2 linked regions of the Homo sapiens genome follow. The protein of the gene in region 1 purifies or fractionates together with the protein of each later gene. This does not show direct contact. Each region holds a gene or a part of one and is shown in the gene's direction. Other genes may lie near its edges.

Evidence for each region. Proteins that work in one complex are often made in the same cells at the same time.
Region 2: the proteins of THOC5 (region 1) and POLDIP3 purify together in Homo sapiens (affinity purification with mass spectrometry; one large-scale study listed by BioGRID and IntAct). This does not show direct contact.

The regions. Positions count from the first base shown.
Region 1 is NC_000022.11:29,550,958-29,555,157, reverse strand, and holds the start of THOC5 (THO complex subunit 5), read left to right. Parts: upstream 1-1,400; 5' UTR 1,401-1,487; intron 1,488-1,502; exon of another isoform or gene 1,503-1,710; intron 1,711-4,200. UniProt on the Homo sapiens protein: Component of the THO subcomplex of the TREX complex which is thought to couple mRNA transcription, processing and nuclear export, and which specifically associates with spliced mRNA and not with unspliced pre-mRNA.
Region 2 is NC_000022.11:42,604,884-42,608,383, reverse strand, and holds part of POLDIP3 (polymerase delta-interacting protein 3), read left to right. Parts: intron 1-3,500. UniProt on the Homo sapiens protein: Is involved in regulation of translation. Is preferentially associated with CBC-bound spliced mRNA-protein complexes during the pioneer round of mRNA translation. Contributes to enhanced translational efficiency of spliced over nonspliced mRNAs.

The DNA.
Region 1 (4,200 bases):
GGCTTGGCTGTTTCCCCCTGCATATTGGGGTTGAAAACTTAAATGTGTAGTTCCAGTCCTTCTATGCAGAGTCTCTCCTGCCCTCCCTCCTTCCTGCAGGCAAATATACAAGCTAGACCCTGTTCCCTCACCCTGTATCCTGTCTCCCCTAATTGACATTCTATCAGCCCAACCCTCATTCTGCAGGGCCACCTGGTGTGTGGAGGTGGCGGGAGGGGTCAGTGACTCTGGGGGTCTCCTCAGTGACCCCCATACCTCATCATGAACCCTTGGGTAGCTTGATTCTGCCTACCATCCAGGAAAACTTGTGCTGGAATTGCTGATGGAAACAATTAAATATTTACTATAAATCAGTGTCTTTTCTTCATCTGCAAGGAACTTTAGCAGGTGCCTGAGGCAGGGCACAGTAGAGCTGGTGGGCTTAGTCCCACATGGCAGATCTACCCTCCTGGAGGGTACTGTGTTCTTGAGCTATTCTCAACAGTCAGTACTGGTTGGGTGCAGTGGCTCACGCCTGTAATCCCAGCATTTTGGAAGTCCGAGGTGGGCAGATCACTTGAGTGAGGTCAGGAGTTCAAGACCAGCCTGGGCAACATGGTGAAACCCTGTCTCTACTAAAAATACAAAAATTAGCTGGGCATGGTGGTGCATGCCTGTAATCCCAGCTACTTAGGAGGCTGAGGCAGGAGAATCCTTTAAACCCTGGAGTCGGAGTTTGCAGTGAGCGGGGATTGCGCCACTGCACTTCAGCCTGGGTGAGAGAGCAAAACTCTGTCTCAAATAAAAATAAAAATAAAAAAGAGCCAGTATTTTCCTCCTTGCTCCTGGGAAGGAGAAGGAACTGGCCCCGTACAACCAGGGATTCAGGACACGTGTTACTAGCTCCAGATGAGGATTTACACGAAAAAATCCTGGGCCTTGTTTGTACAGTTCATGCCAGGGGTAGGAAATACCTGAAGCTTTCAAATACTGCGTTAGAGTTGTGACTCTGTCCTGGGCAAGTCAGGCCTAAAATGGAGAAACTGGTGATGCACTCCTCAAAAAGCCAAGTGTAAAATGAGGTTAATGCCCTCCCTGACTTGTTGCCTTCACTGGCGTGGCATATTATGGTAAAAATAATAATTAAGAAGTAAGGTTATGCAGGCAAATCCTCTAGCGCCGAAATCTTCCCCGCCGCGCTACCAGGTTCTTTCGTGTTATCTTGGACATAACACAACATTAATTCAACTACTCGGTGGAGCGCCCACTAGCTGCTGGACACTCTCTTAGGCCCTGGGCACAGTGAACGAGAAGCATGTGTCTTTGTTTTTACAGTCTCACCACGCCACCACCTCCCTCGGGGGCCTCCGCGCTGAGCTTCCGGCCTCTACGCCTCGCTTCCGGTCGGCCGCCCCTTCCTTACTTCCGGTTCTCTATGGTGCGCGGGCAAGCTTTGCTCCGCCTCCGGCAGTGGCTTACTCCCGGTGCCAGGTTCTTGGAGCTGTGAGGTGAGGAGGGGACAAGGGCAGTGGGGCTGGGAGATGGGGCGGGGCTGGGCGCTCCGGGACTGAGGTGCTGATCGCCCAAAGGGCGCCCCTGGGCTGGGGTCTGACCCGGCTTCTCCTCCCTCACTACCCGCGGTCCCCGGCCTCTCGGCGCTGCGCTGTTACCTCATCCGAAAAGTGTTCGCTGCAGCATCCTCAGGCTTCACGTTGGAGCCTCTTGATTGTGGTAATGTAGCCTGATGGGGGTGGGGGTGGTGGTGATGGTAACAGCTCACATATATCGTGCTCTTCGGTGTGCCAGGCACTCTACTGTGTTGCCAAAGTCAGGATTTCCCACACTTAAGCCTTTCAGGTCCGGTCTTTGTAGGCTTTGCCAGATCAACTTACCACCTCTACTACCGTTTATTAAAAATTTGTTTGTTTGTTTGTTTTAGTATTTATTGATAATTCTTGGGTGTTTCTCGCAGAGGGGATTTGGCAGGGTCATAGGACAATAGTGGAGGGAAGGTCAGCAGATAAACAAGTGAACAAAGGTCTCTGGTTTTCCTAGGCAGAGGACCCTGCAGCCTTCCGCAGTGTTTGTGTCCCTGGGTACTTGAGATTAGGGAGTGGTGATGACTCTTAAGGAGCATGCTGCCTTCAAGCTTCTGTTTAACAAAGCACATCTTGCCCCGCCCTTAATCCATTTAACCCTGAGTGGACACAGCACATGTTTCAGAGAGCACGGGGTTGGGGGTAAGGCTATAGACCAACAGCATCCCAAGGCAGAAGAATTTCTCTCAGTACAGAACAAAATGGAGTCTCCCTTGTCCACCTCTCTCCACACAGACACAGCAACAATCCGATTTCTCTATCTTTTCCCCACATTTCCCCCCTCTCTACTAGACAAAACCGCCATCGTCATCATGGCCCGTTCTCAATGAGCTGTTGGGTACACCTCCCAGACGGGGTGGCGGCCAGGCAGAGGGGCTCCTCACCTCCCAGAAGGGGCGGCCGGGCAGAGGCGCCCCCCACCTCCCGGACGGGGTGGCGGCCAGGCGGAGGCGCCCCCCTACCCCCGACCCGACGGGGCGGCTGGCCGGGCTGGGGCTGGCCCCCACCTCCCCCCCGGACGGGGCGGCTGGCCGGGCGGGGGCTGCCCCCCACCTCCCGGACGGGGCGGCTGCTGGGTGGAGGGGCTCCTCACCTCTCAGACGGGGCAGCCGGGCAGAGACGCTCCTCACCTCCCAGACGGGGTCGCAGCCGGGCAGAGGTGCTCCTCACATCCCAGACGGGGCGGCGGGGCAGAGGTGCTCCCCACATCTGAGATGATGGGCGGCCGGGCAGAGACACTCCTCACTTCCTAGACGGGATGGGGTCCGGGAAGAGGTGCTCCTCACTTCCCAGACTGGGCAGCCGGGCAGAGGGGCTCCTCACATCCCAGATGATGGGCAGCCGGGCAGAGACGCTCCTCACTTCCCAGACGGGGTGGCGGCCGGGCAGAGGCTGCAATCTTGGCACTTTGGGAGGCCAAGGCAGGCGGCTGGGAGGTGGAGGTTGTAGCGAGCCGAGATCACGCCACTGCACTCCAGCCTGGGCACCATTGAGCACTGAGTGAACGAGACTCCGTCTGCAATCCTGGCACCTCGGGAGGCCGAGGCTGGCCGATCACTCGCGGTCAGGAGCTGGAGACCAGCCTGGCCAACACAGCGAAACCCCGTCTCCACCAAAAAATACGAAAACCAGTCAGGCGTGGCGGCGCGCGCCTGCAATTGCAGGCACTCGGCAGGCTGAGGCAGGAGAATCAGGCAGAGAGGTTCCAGTGAGCCGAGATGGCCGCAGTACAGTCCAGCTTCGGCTCGGCATCAGAGGGAGACCGTGGAGAGAGGGGGAGGGGGGAGGGGGAGGGGTTTACTAAAAATTTTTAATCCAGTCCAAATTTTTTTTTTGCAACGGGATCTCTGTTGTCAAGACTGAGTGCAGTGGCGCGATCATAGCTCACTGCAGCCTGGAACTTCTGGGCTCAAGCCATCCTCCCACCCTAGCCTCCAGAGTAGCTTGGGACCACAGGTGTGCACCGCCATACTAGGCTAATTTTAAAATGTTTTCTAAAGATGGGGTCTCGCTCTGTTGCCCACTCTGGTCTTGAACGCCTGGGCTCAAGCGATTCTCTCACCTCTGCTTGCCTTGGTTTCCCAAAGTGTTGGGATTACAGGTGTGAGCCATGGTGTTGGGCCCAGTCACTTTTTTTGTTGTTGTTGAGACTGAATCTCGCTCTGTTGCCCAGGCTGGAGTGAAGTGGCTGCGATCTCGGCTCATTGCAACCTCTGCTCCCTGGGTTCAAGTGATTCTCCTACCTCAGCCTCCTGAGTAGCTGAGATTACAGGCGCCCGCCTCCACTCCCGGCTAATTTTTGTATTTGTGGTACTGACGGGGTTTCACCATGTTGGCCAGGCTGGTCTCAAACTCCTGACCTCAGGTGATCCACCCGCCTCAGCCTCCCAAAGTGCTGGGATTACAGGCCTGAGCCACTGCGCCCAGCCAAGTCACTTTTTAAACTCAAATTTACTTTGAGAGAAAACTTGAAATCTCTCCACCAGAAATGGAAAGCTGCTTTCACTTGTTTTATGTAGAAGGTAAAAATTAATATAGTTAATATAATGCAACTAGATCATTGTTAACAAACTCTGGCTAGATTTTGTTGTTTAAGGCTGTGGGATAGAGTTCTTTTGTTACA
Region 2 (3,500 bases), about 13 Mb from region 1:
TGGTGTGATCTTGGCTCACTGCAGCCTGGACCTCCTGGGCTTAGTTGATCCTCCTGCCTTGGCCTTCTGAGTAGCTGGGACTACAGATGTGCATCATCACTTGCAGCTAATTTTTTTTTGGGGGGGGGGGTAAGGTTATAGATTAACAGCATCCCAAGGCAGAAGAATTTTTCTTAGTACAGAACAAAATGAAGTCTCCCACGTCTACTTCTTTCTACACAGACACAGTAACAATCTGATCTCTCTTTTCCCCACATTTCCCCCTTTTCTATTCGACAAAACCGCCATCGTCTTCATGGCCCGTTCTCAATGAGCTGTTGGGTACACCTCCCAGACGGGGTGGCGGCCGGGCAGAGGGGCTCCTCACTTCCCAGACGGGGTGGTGGCTGGGTGGAGGCGCCCCCCACCTCCCGAACAGGGCGGCTGGCTGTGCGGGGGCTGCCCCCCACCTCCCTCCCAGACGGGGCGGCTGCCGGGCGGAGACGCTCCTCACTTCCCAGACGGGGCGGCTGCTGGGCGGAGGGGCTCCTCACTTCCCAGACGGGGTGGCCGGGCAGAGAAGCTCCTCACCTCCCAGACGGGGTGGCGGTCGGGCAGAGACACTCCTCAGTTCCCAGATGGGGTCGCGGCCGGGCAGAGGCGCTCCTCACATCCCAGACGGGGCAGCGGGGCAGAGGCTCTCCCCACATCTCAGACGATGGACGGCCGGGCCGAGACGCTCCTCACTTCCTAGATGGGATGGCGGCCGGGAAGAGGCGCTCCTCACTTCCCAGACTGGACGGCCGGGCAGAGGGGCTCCTCACATCCCAGACGATGGGCGGCCAGGCAGAGACGCTCCTCACTTCCCAGACGGGGTGGCAGCCGGGCAGAGGCTGCAATCTCGGCACTTTGGGAGGCCAAGGCAGGCGGCTGGGAGGTGGAGGTTGTAGCGAGCCGAGATCACTCCACTGCATTCCAGCCTGGGCAACGAGCACTGATTGAGCGAGACTCCGTCTGCAATCCCGGCACCTCGGGAGGCCGAGGCAGGCAGATCACTTGCGGTCGGGAGCTGGAGACCAGCCCGGCCAACACAGCGAAACCCCGTCTCCACCAAAAAATACAAAAACCAGTCAGGCATGGCGGTGCGCGCCTGCAATCCCAGGCACTCGGCAGGCTGAGGCAGGAGAATCAGGCAGGGAGGCTGCAGTGAGCCGAGATGGCGGCAGTACAGTCCAGCCTCGGCTCGGCATCAGAGGGAAACTGGGGAGAGGGGGAGGGGGAGGGAATTTTTTTTGTATCTTTTGTAGAGACAGGGTTTTGCCATGTTGCCCAGGCTGGTTTCGAACACCTGGGCTCAAGCGATCTGCCCGCCTTGGCCTCCCAAAGTGTTGGGATTACAGGCATGAGCTACTGCTCCTGGTGTTTTTTATTTTTTAGAAGTTTTTTTCTTAACTCTTCCAGCTCTGCTGTTTACTCTTGACCCATGCTTATTTAATTGATGCTTGAACCAGGTACAGTGAAGTTCAAGTCCATTCCTCACCCCTTAGTAGCTCTTGGGATAGTTAATCTCCTTGGTTCTGAGTTTCCTCATTTATAAGATGTGAACAATAACCTGATTCACGGGGTTGTAACATTTAAAGGACGTCTAAAGCTGGGCATGGTGGCTCCATACTTAGAAGGCTGAGGCAGGAGGTCAAGGCTGTAGTGAGCTATGATCACTGCACTCCATCCTGAGCAGCAGAATGAGATTCTGTCCTTTTAAATTTTTTAAAATATGTTTTTGAGACAGGGTCTTGCTCTGTTGTCCAGCCTGGAGGACAGTATCTCGATCCTGGCTCACGGCAACATTGCAGTCTGGGGCTCAGGTGGTCTTCCTGCTTCAGCCTGTGGAGTAGACTCATGCTGCCATGCCCAGATAATTTTCTGCTTTCATTTTTATAGAGATGGAGTCTCACTATATTGCCCAGGCTGGTCCTGAACTCCTGGGCTCAAGCCATCCTCCTGCCTCAGCTTTCCAAAGTGCTGAGATTACATGGTGTGAGCCACCATGCCCAGGGAGTCTCGCTATGTTGCCCGTGCTGTTCTCGATCTCCTGGGCTCAAGCCATCCTGCCATTTGGCCTCCCAAAGTGCTGAGATTACAGGCATGAGCCACTGTGCCCAGCCTTGTTTCTTAAAAAAAAAAAAAAGTCTGTGTGAAAAATTGTCAACCTGTAGTGAGTAATACTCAGAAGTTTTCATTGATCATGTCCTTTATTTTTTTTGAAACAGAGTCTTGCTCTGTCGCCCAGGCTGGAGTGCAGTGGTGTGATCTTGGCTTGCTGTAACCTCCATCTCCTGGGTTCAACTGATTCTCCTGCCTCAGCCTTCCGAGTAGCTAGGATTATAGGCGCGTGCCACCACGTCTGGCTAATTTTTGTATTTTTAGTAGGGACGGGGTTTCACCATGTTGGCCAGGCAGGTCTTGAACACCTCACCTCAAGTAATCCATCAGCCTCGGCCTCCCAAAGTGCTGGGATTACAGGTGTGAGTCACTGTGCCTGGCCTAGCTGCAAGTTTCTGAGGTCACCCCAAAGCATAGTCCCAGTTTGTCTATGGCTTTGTAGGCCATGGAACACGAAGCCTAGGGTAGCCCAGTCCTAGGGAGGGTGGATGCCATCTACCACATACAACCATTTCTTTCTAATCGTGCATGCCGACCCCCTGAACACTCCCTTCCTTTGGCCCTGCTTTCTCTAGTGCCTCCATCTCCCAGAGTCCTCACATTAAAAAAATAGGACAGGAATGGCCAAGTAAACCTTAAGCCTTATCTGATTAATTGTATAAATGACCCTTCTACCCAGAACCCACTGGAAAATCTTTAAATCTGAATTTGCCACTCCAAAGAGAAAAATGATAGCATGCATCACTGCCTGTTTTAGTCCGTTTAGGCTACTATAAGAAAATACCCTAAGCTGGGTAACTTATAAAAAACAGAAACTGCCGGGCGCAGTGGCTCACGCCTGTAATCGTAACGCTTTGGAGGCCAAGGCAGGCGGATCACGAGGTCAGGAGATCGACAGCATCCTGGCTAACACGGTGAAACCCCATCTTTACTAAAAATGCAAAAAATTAGCCGGCCGTGGTGGCGGGCGCCTGTAGTCCCAGCTACTTGGGAGGCTGGCGCAGGAGAATGGCATGAACCCGGGAGGCGGAGCTTGCGGTGAGCCAAGATTGCGCCACTGCACTCCAGCCTGGATGACAGAGCAAGACTCCATCTCAAACAAAACAAAACAAAACTGAAGAAAAGAAACTTCCTTGTCACAGAGAGTCTGGGAAGTCCAGGATCAGGATGCTGGCAGATTCCATGTCTGATGAGGGCCTGCCTGCTTCCTGGTTGTAGATGGTCTTTTTGCTGAGTCCTGACATGGTGGAAGGGGCCAAGGAGCTTTCTGGGGCTTCTTCCTTATAAAGGGCACTAATCCCATTTGTGAAGTCTCTGTCCTCATGACTTAATCACTTCCCAAAGGCCACCACCTTCTA